2 separate regions of the Homo sapiens genome follow, and region 1 is linked to region 2. The links come from fine-mapping of genetic effects on gene expression. A gene starts in region 2. The other region holds a variant in brackets. All regions are shown on one strand. Distances are from middle to middle.

Region 1 (9,551 bases), 19 kb before region 2:
CCGCAGCTTCTCTCCGGCCTGCGCCAGGGACTGTCCTGGCTTCTGCTGCCCCCTCTCGGCCGCCTGCCTGCCCTTCATTCCTGCTCCTAGGCTGGCAGCTCTCAGCACAGACATCCCACATCTGGTGCGTTCCCAGCAGCCAGCCAGGAAAGAGGGTGACACTAGGCAGGAATCCTTCCTGGGCAGCCTCCGGCCCTGAGAACTCCCCGGAGCCTGTGAGCTCGCTGCCTGTGTAGGAGGGAACTCCGAGAAAGTTCATTCTCACGTGGAGAGAACAGAATCCCCGGCTCCAGTCCCAGTCCTGCATCCTGCACCTGCCTGTCTTCAGGTCCTGAGGCCCACAGCCCAGAGCCACAGGACCCTGGGAAGGCGGTGCCTGCCTGGAGATGCAGGGCTAAGGTCCTGGGGGCAGGAGTGATTGGAATGTAATCTCCCTACCTTGCCTCTTCTCAGAGGAGGGGGAGAGGAAGGAGGTCTGAGGAAGGGCATCAGATGAAGCCAGTTTGGGGAGAGGCTGGAAGGGACCTGACAGTGCCACTCTGATGGGAAAGCCAATCTGAGGGTGAGTGGGTCTGAGAGGGCCCACGCGACAGGGTGAGCCTGAGCCAGAGCGGGTCTGGGACACGCATCAGAAGAGCTTTCGTTTGAAAGGGCCAGCCTGAGGGGTAAGCTGACCCAGGGGTGTCTGAAAGGGCCTGGTCTGGTGGGTCCAGTCTGAGGGGAGACTGAGCTGAAGGCACATGGATCCAAAGACTAGAACCGCCAACTAGTTCTAGTCTGCCTGAACTTTCCCAGTTTTAGCACTGAATATCTCAAGTCTCTGGAAACCCCTCAGTCCCAGGCAAACTGGGACGTCGATCACCCTGTTTGGGAAGGCCTTGCCTGACAGCACCAGTCTGAGTGGGGAGGCTGGTCTGAAGGACTTCTGAGGGGGGAGGGTGGTCTGGAGGACGTCTGAGCAAGGAGGCTGGTCTGGAGGATGTCTGATGGGGGGAGGCTGGTCTGGAGGATGTCCGATGGGGGAGACTGGTCTGGAGGATGTCTGAGGGGCCTGGTCTCATAGTTCCAGTTTGAGGGAAGAGCCTGTTCTAGGCCAGAAGGCAAGAAGGAGGTAGAAGGGGTCCTTCCAGAGGGGCAGTGGCTTGGGGAATGGCCACCAGGGGGCAGGACAGGTTCTCAGGAAATTCAGAAGCAACCGACCCAGAGAAGGAGCCGGACTGTGGGGCTGTGTGCAAAGTATGCCCACAACAGCATGTGTCACTGAGCCGTCACGTGCAAATGGCAGTGATGGTATGCAGCTGTGCACCATGTTTGTTTTACTGTGGCTAGGTGACCAGGGATGCATATGTGCTACATTCGTGTGTGATGGCGTGTGCCTGGTGTGGCCATGGCTGAGGCTTTACCTGCGGCTCTCAGGACGACAGCAGGAACACCTTGGGCATTACCAGGACAAGGGGGCACTGGGAGAGTAGCACTCAGAGGAAGGTCTCTGGGAGGGGCTGAGGATGGGGAGGAGAAATGGGAACCAGGCTTCCCTACTACACCTGCCCCGCCCACCATTAGTATCCCTGAGATTCCAGACCCAAGAGCTAAGTGCTTTGGTCATAGCAAGGGCAGCCCCTGCCTGGACCCTGCCTGCCCACCACTCCAGCCTCTCCCTGGCTTCTCCAGCTGGCACTCCTCCAGCTGGACTCCTCCTGCTCCCCAGTAATTGTTCCCATCCTCTCCTACATCCATGCCTTGGTTCATGCTGTGTTTCTGCCCAGATGCCCTCCTGAGAAGCATTTGAGTTCCCTCTGACTCTGTCTCCATGAAATGCTTCCTGCTTATTCCCTCTCTTCCTTGGACTGAAACCCACTGTGCGCTGAGGCCTAATTCTATGGGCCCTTGTCTCATCCCAGGAACTTGAAAGTGCTGGGGGCTGGGGCTGCCAGAGGGGCCGGTCCAAGGGGAGAGGTATGGACAAAGCAAGGTGGGGACCACTGAGTTAATGAGACAAAGTAACACCGTCACAGAAGCCCCCCACCCCACCTCCCTCTAATAAAATGAACACAAGCCAAAACAAACAAAAACAACAACGCTACTACAAACTCACTAAGTCCAAGCAAACAAGGAAATCCTTTTTATAAACCTTAAAATGTGACATGCAAAGAAACAACAGAAGATTCTGGTGCAGTGAGTGAGTAGTATGTCTCCTAACCCCATTCCCAAAAAGGTGAGTCCATGAAACACAATATCCTGTCATCTAAGAGAAGTGGACTACTGGGTGCGTAGGCAGGCTTAGGAAAAGTCTGGGAAAAAGCCTTTGTAAGGAGAAGACCTTGTGTTTCTCCATGAGACCTCAGTAGAAGCAAGGAGAGCTGCCATGGCTTGGTGTCTTCCAGGGGATGGGACAGGGGTTGGCGGGGACAAACCAGTGCCTACAGGAATGGGTTATGCCCCGCCCACCAGTTGGAACAAGATGTCTAACAGGGCCTCAGAGGAGGGACAGCACTTAGGCCCCATCAAGGGCAGCAGGCAGCCCTAGCCAGGCACCCTCAGGCCATAGACGTCACGGGGGCAGAGGTGGGCACAGTTTGAAAGCAACAGCCAGCGTGCAAACCATAGGCTCCAGGGGAGACAAATGGGCCCAGACAAGATGGGAAGGGGCTCCAGGGCCTGCACACCAGGGCAAGGAGAGGTCGGCTAAACATGGGCCATGGCAGAGAGGAGTAAGAGGAAAGGAAATGGCATGGCCTTTAGACACCAAGACCACGGTCAAAATGGAGGCAGGAAGGAGAGACGATGGAAGAAAGGAAAGGAGGAGGGAGAGAAAGAAGGAAGGGAGCAAGAAAGATGATGAAAAGAAAACAACAACCGATGAAGACCCCGATCTAGAAGAAAACACACCCAAAGGAATAAAAGCAGAGTCCTGGCAAATCTTTCCTTTTATAGAAGGCCTTTTTAATAGCATGAAATCAGGAGAACAAAGAACTCAGGCAAGATGATAAAACAATGAATTAGATGAAAGGGATATTAGAGAAGCAAGTAAAAGAGGACTGAAATCTTATTTTTAAAGATGTAATAAACTAGAAACAGAGAAACAATCAATATTAATATAATAGATATTAATAGGCTTTAACCATTAAATAGTGGTTAAAAATCAAAGTAATAGGAAAGGCTTGAGATATTAAGAGTAAATGTCGTGGGAAAAGATAAAGCTACTAAAGCAATTGGAGAGAAGGTAATAGGACAAAGACAAGCTACCATAAGCTCAACTATTAACAGCCCTAAAGTAGGGGTTCCAAAAATGGAACTTAAAATGATATTAAGGTACAAAATACAGAAATCTTCCCCTGAAATGAAAGAACTGAATATTCAGATTGAAAGGGGCATACTGTATACCAGAAAAGTTGACACAGAGTAATTGATATTAAGACACATTGATTTGGCTGGGTGAGGTGGCTCACATCTGTAATGCCACCACTTTGGGAGACTTAGGCGGGAGGATCACTTGAGCACAGGAGTTTGAGGCCAGCCTGGGCAACATAGTGAGACCCTTCCGTCTAAAAAAGAAAAAAGATACATTGGTTTAGTTACCAAACTTTGGGGCTAAAGTAAGAATACTTAAGGCACCTAGACAGAAGAAGCAAGTCATTTATTTACAAGGGGGGATATTCAGTCTGGTCTCAGATTTCTCCAAGGTAGCATTTGACAAGTGAAGACAATGAAGCAATATCTACAGAGTTCTGAGGGGAAAAAGTGTCACCCTAAACCGTAACCAACAGAGTGGGTGATCTCAATCATAAATTTGGGGGATGGTGTACTCATGAACCTTTCCAGAAAAGACAAAATCCATTCAGCCAAGAGATTAGTCAAGGTCAGGAGCTGAGGAAGGGAAATTCATGGTAAAGAACTGGTGGGGACATTAATTCCACGTAGGAATTAACCTTAATTCAATTTCAGCGAAGATGACACTGTGGGAATTTTCGTTGCAAAACACTGTAAATACAGTTGACCTTTGAACAACACGAGTTTGAACTGTGCAGGTCCACTTATTCACAGATTAAGTAAAATCAATAAAAGTTACACCAAGAGTGCCTGCCTCTCCTGCCTTCCTCTCCCTCTTCTGCCTCTGCCACCCCTGAGGCAGCAAGACCAACCCCTCCTTTTCCTCCTCCTCCTCAGCCTCCTCAACATGAAGACGAGGATGAAGACCTTTATGATGATCCACTTCCACTTAATGAATAGTAAATATTAATAAATTATTTCTTCCTTATCATTTTCTTAATATTTTCTTTTCTCTAGCTTTAAGAATACAGTATATAATATATATAACATAAAAAATATGTGCAAATCAATTGTTTATGTTATTAATAAGGCTTCTCGTCAACAGTGGGCTATTAGTAATGTCAGGGGAGTCGAAAGTTATATGCACAGTCTGGAATGGAGAGGTGAGGTAGCAAGGAAAGCAGAAGTACTAATCACATCTTCGTTCATAGCTAAGTCAATAAAGGGATAAAACTAGAATATAATGGTAAAATCCTACTCCAACCTCCTTTTCTTTTCTTTTTTTTTTTTTTTTTTTTTTTTTGAGGCAGGGTCTTGCTCTGTTGTTCTGGCTGGAGTGACATGGTGCTATCACAGCTCACTGCAGCCTCGACCTCCTGGTCTCAAGCAATCCTTCCACCTCAGCCTTCGAGTAGCTGGGACCACAGGCATGTGCCACCATGCCTGGCTAATTTTTAAATTTTTGTAAAGACAGGGTCTCTCCATGTTGCCCAGACTGGTCTCGAACTCCTGGGCTCAAGTGATCCTGCTGCCTAGGTCTCCTAAAGTGTTGGGATTACAGGCGTGAGCCACTGCGCCTGGCCCAATCTCTTAATTGAAATGGCTCTTGAGAGAGGTCTTTTAGGAATGACTACTCTTTTAAGGTGAAGAAATATTTCAGCTATTCCATTTTCGCTTCAGTTTCTTTTTTTCTCTATTAAACTCAAGTAAACGTACATTTTCTACTTTTGGTTAAAAAAATAGTTTCTTTTTCTTTTTTTTTTTTTTTGAGAC[A/G]GAGTCTCACTCTGTCGCCCAGGCTGGAGTGCAGTGGCGTGATCTCGGCTCACTGCAAGCTCCGCCTCCTGGGTTCATGCCATTCTCCTGCCTCATCCTCCCGAGTAGCTGGGACAACAGGTGCCCGCCATCGCGCCCGGCTAATTTTTTTGTATTTTTAGTAGAGACAGGGTTTCACCGTGTTAGCCAGGATGGTCTCGATCTCCTGACCTCGTGATCCGCCCGCCTCGGCCTCCCAAAGTGCTGGGATTACAGTCGTGAGCCACTGCACCTGGCCTAAAAAAATAGTTTCTATAGTATATCCCATTAGGACTATGAGAACAGTCCCATTCTTAGATATTTTTTCTACCTGACTGGCTCTCTCTCTAACCTCTCTCCTCAATTTTATGTATTATGTATATGGTTACAAAACGTAATACTGATCATTTCTGGGTGGTGAGGTTTTGAGTGCTTTGTTGCATTTTTCTTTGTATTCTTTTGTCTATTTTAGAAAACATTTATCATTTATCTACCTGTCTGCCTGTCTAAGGCAAATCACTTAACTTCTATGAGCCTCCAATTCCTTATCTTCAGCCTGGTAATAACAAAATTGGAGGGCATTTTAAAGACTGTGAGATAATATGCCACTCCCCTCGTGGTAGGCTGAATAATGGCCCCCAAGATGTCCACATCCTAATTCCCAGAACCTGTGAATGTTACCTTATATGGCAAAAGAGACTTTGCAGATGTGGTCAAGGATCTTGAGAAGACTATCCTGGATTATCTGAGGTGTGGTGATATAATCGCAATGATTCCAACAGGAGAGAGGGAGGCAGGAGGAGTCAGGGAAGACAGCAGTGGAATGATGGAAGCAGAGACTGGAGTGCTGTGCTTTGAGGATGGAGTACTGGTCCACAAGCCAAGGAATGCAGGCAGCCATTAGATACTGAAAAGGCAAGGAAATGCATTCTCCTCTTGGAGCCTACAGAAGGAACCAGCTCTGCCAACACATTGACTTTAGCCCACAAAAACTGATTTCAGACCTCTGAACAGTCAATTGTAAGCAAATAAATCTGTGTAGTTTTTTGTTTTTCTGTTTTCGTTTTTGAGACTGAGTCTCTCTCTGTCACCCTGGCTGGAGTGCAGTGGCACGATCTCAGCTCACTGCAACCTCCGCCTCCCAGGTTCAAGCGATTCTCCTGACTCAGCCTCCCAAGTAGCTGGGACTACAGGTGCCCGGCTAATTTTTGTATTGAAGCCACTACATTTATGGTAATTTGTTACAGCAGCAAAAGGAAACGAATGTTTACACCTGTTTCCTTGGCCCAAGGTGACCTCCCCATCCATCCCCTTCATCCAGCCAACTCCTACATGTTCAACATTTCACTCACGTTTCCCTGACATCTGCCCTCCACTGCTGCCCAGAGTGGGGCTGGGCTGTGCATCCCCCAACGTGGCACATGCCAGTCTGTGTGATAGTTCCTCATGGACAGGTCTCTCTTCCTCCCCGGCTGTGCATATGTGAGGATAGGCCTGGGGCCCAACAGAGGACTCAGCTCAGTAACTGTTAATGCATAGATGAATCAAGGAGGGCTGGGCGAGAGGTTGGCGCCTGATAATTACCCAAGACCCTCCTTTCTTGGCGCTAGGATCTCTCCCTTCCCTATGTTTACCTGGCTTTCTCTCCCACCAGTCTGTCCTCCTCCATATACACACATTCTTCCAATCTCTAGAAAACTGATCTGTGTCTATCTCTGACTTCTCTGACTTCTTCCTTTAGTCATTGGTCTAGAACACATTTGTTGACACCTACTAGTGACTCTGGGTAGGCTTATCTTTGCGTGTGTGTGTGTGTGTGTGTGAAAGAAAGGGAGAGATGGAGGCCTGTGAATCTCTTCATGTGTTTTCCCGGCCATGTGGTATGTGTGTAGTTGGTGTAATCATGTGTGTTTCTGTGTGGATGTGTTTTTATGTGCAGGCCTGTGTCTGTGGGTAGGCTTGTCTGTACATACATCTTTGCTTGTATGTATGTGTCTCTGCTTTGTGGGTTGTATGTATGCATGTTTGTCAGTGTGTGTCTGCATATGCAGGGAAGGACACCTTTTGATTTCTGCCCTCAAGGGGCTGGACTGCCTGCTGCAGGAGCTGGTGTGCCAGGATGACTCACAAGGATGTTAACTGAGTTTTGCTCCAGTCACAATCTTCCCTTTCCTGTCTCGTGCAGAAGGTCTGGTCAGGCTTTTTTTTTTTTTCTCCTTGTCTCTTGTAGGGAGGATCTCAGGCCCAAAGCTGAAGTCAACCACAGCCATCTTCCTGACCCTGACCTTCTGGAAACCTAAACTTCTTGAGAGGACTATGCTAAGGCGAAGGGAGAGGAGGTGAAGCAATCCAGACCCCCCGACACACACACTAAAAGACTGAGTCTGTGGTTGCATGGGCAGGGGGGACCCACTAATACTCCCTAATTGTACCCCAGGAGTGGGAGCAGGGTGGGCTTAGGAAGGGAGGCTCCTGGACATTGATCTCCCAACAGGGGCATCTCAGCAGAGCCCATGGGGATCACAGCATAAAATACCCAGGCCCTCTGTAAGCTGGGGAAGATGGGGTGAGGAGAGGGCCCAATCATGACCTATCTACTCGCTCCAGGGACTAGAACCCTGAGGGAGGCATTTATATTTAGTTTTGTTTTACCATTTTAACCCCCTTTTTTTTTTTTTGAGACAGGGCCTCGCTCTGTTGCCCAGGATGGAGTGCAGTGGTGCAATCATGGCTCACTGCAGCCTCAACCTCCTGGACTCAAGCAATCCTCCCACCTCAGCCTCCTGAGTAGCTGGGACTACAGGCATGTGTTGGGAAAAAGGCTTATGGGGTGCCTGCATAGACTAGCCATAAAAATATGGGACAATAAGTTGTGGAAAGCCACAAAAGGCCTCTCAGAAGGAAAGCCTCCTAATTGCCATCATGTTGCCCTGCTCAGAGCAAGACACACTCTCTTATTTGTAAACACTGTTCAAGGAGAAAGACACTCCTTTGAAACACTGGAAGGTGAACAGATGTGCAGGCTCCTAGTTAAGCCACTCCCACTAGCTACTCTCTGATAAGTTAAAGATATGCTGTTTGAGCACAAAGGAGATTCATTTAAACCGCTATTACTATAGATTACGTCTATGACGCATAGCCTCCCTTTCACTGTTTCGCCCTGAACATCTGCTTCTCAGATCTAAGTGATCGTACTCAACAGTGTGGAGACCAGAGCACTGAGCCTTTTGCAGCCTCCATTTTGCAGCTGGCCCCCGGGGCTCCCCACCTTTCAACTCTTGTCTCTTCTCAATCCTTTGTCGCCACCAGACTTCAGGTACCCTACGGGTGGTGTTGAGGCTGGTCCCCAACAGGCATGCACCACCATGTCCGGCTGATTTTTAAATTTTCTGTAGAGATGGGGTCTCCCTGTGTTGCCTAGGCTGGTCTCAAACTCCTGGGCTCAAGCAATCCTCTTGCCTCGGCCTCCAAAAGTGCTGGGATTACAGGTGTGAGCCACCATGCCCAGCCACCATTTTAACCATTATTATGTGTGCAGTTCTATGGCATTAAACACATTCACGTTACTGCACAACCATATAGTTTTTATAAAATAGACATTACTGATTTTGCACACCTTAGCACGCCTACCACTGGGCAGTGTCACTAGAAAAACACATATGGGGAGTGGGGCTGAGACTGTGGAGAGGCAGAGGACATCCCCTGCCCATGCAGGGCAGAGCGGGAGGAAGGATGGGCAGGAAGACCCGCAATGGTGCAGGTGCTCCTGAGCTCAGGAGAGGGTTGGGTGGGCGCTGTGGCTACAGGGGAGGTGGAACCACACAGTCTGTGCTTTGAAAGCCAGGCTGAGGTTCAGGAGCTTTTGCTCAGAATCAGGGGTTCAGGGAGCTGGAGAGACCTGGTGAGCTTTGTGTGTTGGAAAGACTGCTCTGGGGGCTGTGCAGAGTAGGGCTAGGCGGGAAGAGAATGTGGGACCCATGGTGGCTGAGAAAATGAGCAGGCCTAAGGAAGGTTCTTTGAATGATAGGAAAGGCCTGAGAGCCAGCTCTTGCTGTGTCCGGACAGGAGAGGACTAGGCCCAGGGCAGGGAGAATGGGGCTTTTAGAGCACACAGTCGCCATGTCTTGATGAGTGAGTGGTTGGGAGGGAAGGGAAAAGGAAGAGTCTTGTACAGCTCCTGTTGACTGGGAGGCAGCAGGACTGTTTATTGAAACAGCATGGGAGGAGGACAGGCTTTGGGCAAGTGGAACAACTATGGCTCAGACATTCACTCACTTGCCTATAGTCATATACGAAGCAATGGACAGATGAGTTCAGATGCAGACATGTCAAGTGTAAGACCTCTTGGGAGAGGACACTGAATCAGCATAGCAGTTAAGAGAATGACTCTGGGGTCAGACAAACCTAGGCTCCTGTTGACCTTGGGACAAATTTACAAGTTTATTAATCTCTTTTTTTTTTTTTTTTTTTTTTCAGTTTCTCGCTCTGTC
Region 2 (9,551 bases):
CAACATACGCAAATCAATAAATGTAATCCAGCATATAAACAGAACCAATGACAAAAACCACATGATTATCTCAACAGATGCAGAAAAGGCCTTTGACAAAATTCAACAGCCCTTCATGCTAAAAACTCTCAATAAATTTGGTACTGATGGGACGTATCTCAAAATAATAAGAGCTATCTATGACAAACCCACAGCCAATATCATACTGAATGGGCAAAAACTGGAAGCATTCCCTTTGAAAACTGGCACAAGACAGGGATGCCCTCTCTCACCACTCCTATTCCACATAGTGTTGGAAGTTCTGGCCAGGGCAATCAGGCAGGAGAAAGAAATAAACAGTATTCAATTAGGAAAAGGGGAAGTCCAATTGTCCCTGTTTGCAGATGACATGATTGTATATCTAGAAAACCCCATCGTCTCAGCCCAAAATCTCCTTAAGCTGATAAGCAACTTCAGCAAAGTCTCAGGATACAAAATCAATGTGCAAAAATCACAAGCATTCTTATACACCAATAACAGACAGGCAGAGAGCCAAATCATGAGTGAACTCCCATTCACAATATCTTCAAAGAGAATAAAATACCTAGGAATCCAACTTACAAGGGATGTGAAGGACCTCTTCAAGGAGAACTACAAACCACTGCTCAACGAAATAAAAGAGGATACAAACAAATGGAAGAACATTCCATGCTCATGGATAGGAAGAATCAATATTGTGAAAATGGCCATACTGCCCAAGGTAATTTATAGATTCAATGCCATCCCCATCAAGCTACCAATGACTTTCTTCACAGAATTGGAAAAAACTACTTTAAAGTTCATATGGAACCAAAAAGAGCCCGCATTGCCAAGTCAATCCTAAGCCAAAAGAACAAAGCTGGAGGCATCACGCTACCTGACTTCAAACTATACTACAAGGCTACAGTAACCAAAACAGCATGGTACTGGTACCAAAACAGAGATATAGACCAATGGAACAGAACAGAGCCCTCAGAAATAATACCATACATCTACAACTATCTGATCTTTGACAAACCTGACAAAAACAAGAAATGGGGAAAGGATTCCCTATTTAACCAATGGTGCTAGGAAAACTGGCTAGCCATATGTAGAAAGCTGAAACTGGATCCCTTCCTTACACCTTATACAAAAATTAATTCAAGATGGATTAAAGACTTAAATGTTAGACCTAAAACCATAAAAACCCTAGAAGAAAACCTAGGCAATACCATTCAGGACATAGGCATGGGTAAGGACTTCATGTCTAAAACACCAAAAGCAATGGCCACAAAAGCCAAAATTGACAAATGGGATCTAACTAAACTAAAGAGCTTCTGCACAGCAAAAGAAACTAACATCAGAGTGAACAGGCAACCTATAGAATGGGATAAAATTTTTGCAATCTACTCCTCTGACAAAGGGCTAATATCCAGAATCAACAAAGAACTCAAACAAATTTACAAGAAAAAACCCCCTCAACAAGTGGGTGAAGGATATGAACAGACACTTCTCAAAAGAAGACATTTATGCAGCCAACAGACACATGAGAAAATGCTCATCATCACTGGCCATCAGAGAAATGCAAATCAAAACCACAATGAGATACCATCTCACACCAGTTAGAATGGCGATCATTAAAAAGTCAGGAAACAACAGGTGCTGGAGAGGATGTGGAGAAATAGGAACACTTTTACACTGTTGGTGGGACTGGAAACTGGTTCAACCATTGTGGAAGACAGTGTGGTGATTCCTCAGGGATCTAGAACTAGAAATACCATTTGACCCAGCCATCCCATTACTGGGTATATACCCAAAGGATTATAAATCATGCTGCTATAAAGACACATGCACACGTATGTTTATTGTGGCACTATTCACAATAGCAAAGACCTGGAACCAACCCAAATGTCCAACAATGATAGACTGGATTAAGCAAATGTGGCACATATACACCATGGAATACTATGCAGCCATAAAAAATGATGAGTTCATGTCCTTTGTAGGGACATGGATGAAGCTGGAAACCATCATTCTCAGCAAACTATCGCAAGAACAAAAAACCAAAGACCACATGTTCTCACTCATAGGTGGGAACTGAACAATGAGAACACTTGGACACAGGAAGGGGAACATCACACACCGGGGCCTGTTGTGGGGTGGGGGGAGGGGGGAGGGATAGCATTAGGAGACATACCTAATGTAAATGACAAGTTAATGGGTGCAGCACACCAACATGGCACATGTATACATGTGTAACAAACCTGCACATTGTGCACATGTACCCTAAAACTTAAAGTATAATAATAAAAAAAAGAAAAAAGAAAAAAAAATAAGAGGTGAAAAAATGATTACATGCTATTAATTGTAAGACACATTCTGATTACATATTTGTTTAAACTGGGGGAAAAAAGTACACCTTAGAACCAATCAAACATGTTATTAGCAGATGGAATTTCTCCAAATGAAATTGATAGGCAGCTGATTATGGTTTTAAAATAATTGCATAATCTATTGAGGGAAAAGCCCTTATCCAATCCTCCTAAGTGTAGAGCTCTGTGGTTGTTCAATCCCAGGATAATCTGTAAAACACCACCAGAAGGTGTAGTGCTAATCAGTACAGTGCCGCACAGAGAAATCCTCCATAATGACCCTCTCAAAACACTGGATAAGGGATCTCTACCTTGTGGGCAAAAATTAAGGCAGCCAGATTGGCCGACCAAGGAACTCCACAGCCAAAGGAGCAAGTCAACAAACAGATGCCATGAGATTTGCTAGTCCTATCATTTCATTATTACTCATGGCCAAAAACATCTACAGTAGATGATGTTCTGGATTAGTGACCAATGCACAGTGCTTCCTTTTCACCCCATTTTATTCTCTATTTCTTGTATCTCTACATATCAGGACTTTTTCATAGGGGGAGTAGTTTAAAGATAGTTCAAAGGCAGTTAAAAGGTAGTGGGATTATTAGAAGCCACATTTCATACCTCATGGAGACCTCACTAGAGCATGAAGGGACATTACCTGGAGAACCTATATCTGAAGAACAGTGGTCCTGATCTGTGCTATGATCTCCAGAAGCAGCAGCTGGATGTGTCACTGAATTGTTCTTCACTGGAAAGGAGGCAAATTTATTGGCATTTGTATCGTGGGATGATTGGATTATGTAGATGAGGGCCTTTTTGGAATCATATAATAGGAAATGATGTATATGTGTTGGGCAAACAAAGGGTGGACTGTATGGACACCTGCCATTTTGCTTCTTTATGATGCTGCTTCCCCTGGAAACCACCACCTCCACCTCCCCACTGCCCATAGCGTTATCATGTTAATCAATTTGATCTTCATCCCTTGACCACCATTGATTAGTCCAAAGGTAAGCATCTAAGTTGAATCAAAATATTTCCTGAAAATTTTGCAAACCAAAAAAAAAAAAAAAAAAGAAAGGAGGAGGATGAGGAGGATGAGGAGGAGCTGGCAGCAGCCAGTCTCTTTGGATGCCTACACAACAAGCTTTAAAACTTTAGAATTGTCTGAAGTCCCGTTTTTTACCATGTGGTCTAGAAGCATATTGGAAGTCAGTCTGGGGATGGGGAGGACAGGGACTTGGGACAGGGGAGGGAAATGGAGGCAGGCAGAAAGTAACAGAGTTGAGAGGTAGAGAGAGAACTCTTCTGGGTGGCTTTTGATCTCTTAGTTTCAGTTGTTCCTGAGTCATCCTTGCCCTTAGGTTTCCGTATCTGATTATAAATTTATCTTTTTGCTTAAACTAGTTATCTCTCTCCCTGGGTGAGCTCATCTATTTTTCTCATTTAACTACCATTCTTTTGCTGACAACTCACAAAATATTATCTTTAGCCTGGACCTCTCTCCTGAACCTGTGTATTCAGTAAATGGCATCACAGCATCCCTCGTCACTAACCCGGGAGTCATCCCAGACTTTTCCTTCCTGCTTACCTCCCCTATCCTCTAGTTCTCTAAGTCCCACCAGCAGCAGCTCCCAAATATCCTCAATGCTCTCCTTTTCTCTCTACAACTTTTTCCTTCCATCATTTCAGTCCCTTATTATTAATCCTTGCCTTCACTCTCAAATGCTTTCAAGCCCCCATTCCACACCATAGCCCAAATCATCCTACTAATTTCTGGATATGATCGCATTACTCTTCTGCTCAAAAATTCTTCAGTGGCTCCCCACTGTTTTCAGGATAAAATCTGAACTCCTGCAGCTGGGTCACAAAATTCGCTCACATTACACTCAGATGTGCGATGATTTAAGTCTCCTCTGTTTCCTATAACTAGGCTGATCTTTCTCACAATGCCCTCACCCTGCTGGGTAATGGGCAGTGGGGGGGAGCTAAAAGTAATCCACTCTGGTAAACTCTATAGGATCCAATAATTTATTTTAGACAGTCTCTAAGTACTTTGGTAGCTTTGGATGACTCAGTCTTCCCTTTCTTCTTTCAAGATAGCATCTGGATTTACAGGGGTCTTATGTGAATTTCATGGCATTGGATTGGGGGAAGGGGCCTCTTAGTCACATGGTCCTGGGGGTTGTGTCAGCTGGCATTTGCTGAGATGTGATCGATCTGCTATAAATTAGTGAATAACAACCCTGAGAGGTAGCATTACAACCATTTTACAGATGAGGAAGCTGAGGCTAAGAGAGATTTAGTAACTTGCTCAAGATCACAAAGTTAGTAAGTGAACCAGGAATCAATACTGCCCCGATTACAGTAGGCACTTAGTTATATGAGTCTAGGATTCCAGAGAGAAGTTAAGGCTAGACTTGGGAGCACTGGGAGTCTTCATGATATAGCTTCAGGGATGTGATCCTCCAAGGAGAGCATGTAGAGCGGGATGAGAAGACGGCCGGATCAGAATAGGTGACAATCACTGGCCTGTGAAGGTCGGGGAGGACAAGGTCTACCTCACTGCTCCTGTCCAAGCTATCTTCTTCTTAGGGGAGCTTTTAGGATGGCAAGGCAGGATTTCCACCACGCCTGCACCTATTCCAGCCAGGGCAGAACCATCGCTCAGGACACTCCATTTCTGTCCCAGACTCCCCAACAGCCTGGCAGCAAGCCTGCGACCAACACTGGGTAGGAACTCAGTAAATGTGTCCAAAGAACCTGTGTTGCCAGAGATTTTCACACCTCTTAGGGCCAGGGAACCTGGGGCCCTCTAAAGTGGGAATGCAGAGTCCACACCCAGGTGGCAGAGGGAAGTGCGGGACTGCACTATAGGCGGTTCCCTAGGTGAGGAGATTCAGTCTCCTGCCAGGTGTGGGGACGCGGGGCCTTCCTCCGGATGACTTACTTAAGAGACCTCTCCCAGATACAGAGGGGTGGTTTCCTCACATGTGGAAATGCAGAGGCCTTGGCCTTTCTCGGATGTGGGGTGTACAACCCTTCCAGGTGTAGAAGGTGCAAGAAATCCCTACCAGAGGTTAGGCCTTGCCCCCACCCCATCCCCTCTCCCGGGAAGGATCCAGGGCCAGCTACTCCTTCGGCCCTCCTCCCGCCCCGCGCCGGCACGAGAGGCGGGCTGGTCCCCACCTCAGCGCACCACCAATGGTGCGGGAACCGGGGTTCGGCCAGCCAATTGAGTGGCGGCAGCGGCGCTGGGATGGCTCCGCCCCCGGGCCGCAGGCCGCCGGCCTCCCAGGAGGCGAGGCTCTTCGCTGTTTTTGCTGGCCGCCGAGCCCGGCCGAGCCCAGCCGAACGTAGCCGAGCCCAGCCGAGCCCAACCGAACGCAGCCGAGCCCAGCCGAACACCGCGCAGCTCCCGCCGCCGCCGCCCGAGCGCTGCCGAGCGAGCGAGCGCCGCGGCCGCGGAGGAGGTGCGGCCCCAAGGGGAGGAGGTGCCCGCTCACCGCAGACCGCCCGCGGCAGAGGCCGCCCCGGTCGCGCCGCGGCGGGAGCGGCCGGTGGAGGCTGCGCGGCCGAGGGGGAGGGCCGGGGGAGCGGACGTCGCCTCTGCTGGTCTCCCACCTCCCGCCGCCCCCCGCCCGCAGGCTCCCAAGCCTTAGTCGGCGCCGAGCATCCCGCTGCCCCGGACCCTCCCGCGGGCGCGCACCAGGCTCAACTCAGGTAAGAAGGGCCTCCCGCCACGGGCACGGGGGCCAAGAACACGCGACCCGAAGATGGAGATAAAGAGACAGAGACACACTGCCGCGGAGAGAGACGAACACAAAGACAGAGACACAGGAACCACCGAAAAGACCCCACGGAGAAGGGGATAGGGACACGTCCATGGGAACAGAGGGGGATACAGCCTGGAAGAGAGAGAGAGACACAGAGACTGATGCAGAGATACACAGAGACACACTGGTAGAGAAATGAGACATAGAGGAGACATACTCAGAGATGGGGACACACGGAGAGGCAGCCACACACACAGAGGTGGGTGTGCAGAGGCACAGGCACACATCCAACGGAGGGACAGTGAGACACCAGACACACACACACACCTGACCCAGAGAGGCAGCCCCACATAGAGGCACACAGCCCTGGACGCACAGAGCCTGCACATGCCTGCCAGGGCCTCCACAAAGTTCCCTCTGTGCAAGCTGGCGCCTCTGGAGGTCTCCTGGTCGGGCTGGCTGGAGTCCTGGGAGAGAGGAGGCGCCCAGGCCACACCAGAGCTGCTTACAACCCCCATCCTTTTGGGCTGGGGGCTTCCTGGATCCCACCCACCAACAGAGGGCTTTTGAGGGCTGCAAGCTTGGTGGGCAGGACCAGGGCATGCCCACCAGGTCTAAGGAGAATGAGATGACGGCTGCCTACTGCAGCTTCCCCACGGTGGCTACACACTCATTCAGGTGGCCAGAACCAAGCCTGTGGATGGGGGTGATGGCTCTGTGGGGTATTCGAGCCTGTTGGGACCCAAGGTCTTTCACCAGGGAGGCCAGAAATGTGGGAGGGAGGCTCTCTTCCCTACCTCTCTCCTCCTAGGCCTCACCCCACCCTTCCTCCTCACCACCCTCTCCTTTACTGTATACCCCCAACAGGCTCAGGACTGCAGGTAGACATCTCCACTGCCCAGGAATCACTGAGCGTGCAGACAGCACAGCCTCCTCTGAAGGCCGGCCATACCAGAGTCCTGCCTCGGCATGGGCCTCACCATTGAGGCAGCTCCACTGTCTGTGCTGGTCTGAGGGTGCTGCCTGTCATGGGGGCAGCCATCTCCCAGGGGGCCCTCATCGCCATCGTCTGCAACGGTCTCGTGGGCTTCTTGCTGCTGCTGCTCTGGGTCATCCTCTGCTGGGCCTGCCATTCTCGCTCTGCCGACGTTGACTCTCTCTCTGAATCCAGTCCCAACTCCAGCCCTGGCCCCTGTCCTGAGAAGGCCCCACCACCCCAGAAGCCCAGCCATGAAGGCAGCTACCTGCTGCAGCCCTGAAGGCCCCTGGCCTAGCCTGGAGCCCAGGACCTAAGTCCACCTCACCTAGAGCCTGGAATTAGGATCCCAGAGTTCAGCCAGCCTGGGGTCCAGAACTCAAGAGTCCGCCTGCTTGGAGCTGGACCCAGCGGCCCAGAGTCTAGCCAGCTTGGCTCCAATAGGAGCTCAGTGGCCCTAAGGAGATGGGCCTGGGGTGGGGGCTTATGAGTTGGTGCTAGAGCCAGGGCCATCTGGACTATGCTCCATCCCAAGGGCCAAGGGTCAGGGGCCGGGTCCACTCTTTCCCTAGGCTGAGCACCTCTAGGCCCTCTAGGCTGGGGAAGCAAACTGGAACCCATGGCAATAATAGGAGGGTGTCCAGGCTGGGCCCCTCCCCTGGTCCTCCCAGTGTTTGCTGGATAATAAATGGAACTATGGCTCTACCCTGAGGTTTTCTTCTCTTCCTGAGGGCCCTGTGGTAGCACAATTAAAGGTGTGGGGTGGGTTTCTACACAGGTTTATTTGTGCAAAGTTAGAGGGGTAATGGTGGTTGAAGACCAAGTCCTGGGGTAAGGTGCTGGGACCTTAAGGAACAGAACAAGAAGGGAAGATGCTGGGACCTGATCAGGAGTGGGGTCACATGCTGGGTGCTAAGGCTGGGCTGGGTACCAGGGTCAAGCCCTAGGAGTACTGTATTCAAGCGATGGGACAGAGACTGAGGCCAGCCCCTCAGGTCTTGATTTTCACTTCCCTCACCAGGTTCAGCAGTTTGTCCAGTTTCGCAATCTCCACAGCTGGACCCTTCTGCACCTCCTGCCCCTTCTTTTCCTGGGGAGAGGGAAAGTATACATGAGGGAGGAATGGTGGGCCCCCCCTCTCTGGGTCCCAGCACCACCTCCTCTGCCCAGCCTGTCCAGCTGTGCCCTACCCCTCCCCTGCCCAGTAAATTCTGGATCCCTGCCTCCCCTCTCCCTGACACGATCATTCCCCAACTCGGGTTAGGTGACACAGGGGCTCAGCTGACAGCTTGCAAAAAGGAGTCCAGCTCTGGCTTGAACCTCAGATGGACATGGGGTCTTGATGCTTGTGGGAGTGGGAAAAGGCATCCATTCCCTGACCCTCAGGGGAACAACCTTCCAGGCCAGGGAAATCCAGCTCTGCGAAGGCGGGGGGCTGACTGCTGGCACCATCCTTACCATGGGAAGGTCCCTGGCCGAGACCTATCAAGGAGCTAATGGGTATGTGTTTGGGGAGGGAGGGGCTGTGGACAGAGCCTCAGGGGCCCGGACCTCACCTAGTCCTCTCACCTGATGCCTTCAGGTCAGGTTGGCAGTGGGTGCTATTTGGGGCGAGACCTGCTGTGTCAGACATACCCAGGGTTGGGAAGAGTGTCAAGAGACCCATAAGGGCAGAGGGAATAGTCCATGTGACTCCAGGTGTCGTTGGCTGAGGTTGTCCTTTAGAAGACCAGATCCTGAGTTTATGACCCAACACCCTACCTGCAAAGCACTCCAATCCTTCCATTATAAGTTGGACACTGGAGTGTGTGTCACCCACAGGTCCTGAGAACTCCTTGGCAGACCAGCACCAGTCCCACCCTCCCTGCTGTCCAGGCAGGGGGGTGAGGGCTGTGCTGGGGCAGGCTGGGCAGTTGCCATTTCCCCATTTCCTGCCTTCGCTGTGCTCCTGGGCCCCCATCCTCTCAGCCACCTGTGCCCACTGCTCACTGACACCTACCCCAGCCTTACCTTGGTCTGGCCAGGGCTGTAAAGGGGATGGGGAGGGGTGAGTGCAGGGCCAGTAGGCCCTTCCCTGGCTCCTTTTTGGCTGCTGTCACCATGTGGAGCTCAGATTTCCCCCTGCTGTGACCCCATACCTGCTCCCAAATTTTCTCCCCTATCCGCTTGCAGCCCAGTGCCTTTTTGCCACTACCTAGCTCACCTCTACCCTCTGCAGGCAGAGCACAAAAAAGCTCTTTTTCTCTCTCTTCCCTCTCTCCTTCCTAAATTAAGCTTGGGTTCTCTTCTTGGCTTCACCCCATCCCCTGGGAGTTAGGGGACCTGGTTTTAGTTCCAGCTCTGTCATTAACTCCCTATATGACTTTGGGCAAGGCCTTTGCCTTTCTGAGCTTCAGTTTCCCATCTATCCTGTAGTTAGGGAAAGACAGTCTT

What was found. PIP is the estimated chance that this variant, and not a neighbour inherited with it, causes the effect. A credible set is the group of variants that fine-mapping cannot tell apart.
Region 1: its variant is the best candidate, but not a certain one, in a credible set for the expression of ENHO in liver (GTEx, PIP 0.80).

Annotation. Positions count from the first base shown.
Region 1 is chr9:34,538,684-34,548,234 of GRCh38, reverse strand. No RefSeq gene overlaps it. Among named protein-coding and RNA genes, the nearest start is that of ENHO, 20 kb to the right of the region's middle. RefSeq lists a silencer at 1,264-1,343 and an enhancer at 939-1,438. The variant A/G (reference allele first, on the strand shown) is at 5,044.
Region 2 is chr9:34,519,315-34,528,865 of GRCh38, reverse strand. ENHO (energy homeostasis associated) reads left to right here and starts at 5,876. Exons shown (of 2, transcript NM_198573.3): 1 at 5,876-6,089; 2 at 7,010-7,823. The coding sequence starts at 7,171. The coding sequence ends at 7,401. It overlaps DNAI1 (dynein axonemal intermediate chain 1), which reads right to left. Exons shown (of 20, transcript NM_012144.4): 20 at 7,882-8,208. The coding sequence ends at 8,110. RefSeq lists silencers at 5,451-5,820, 5,841-5,950 and an enhancer at 6,580-7,132.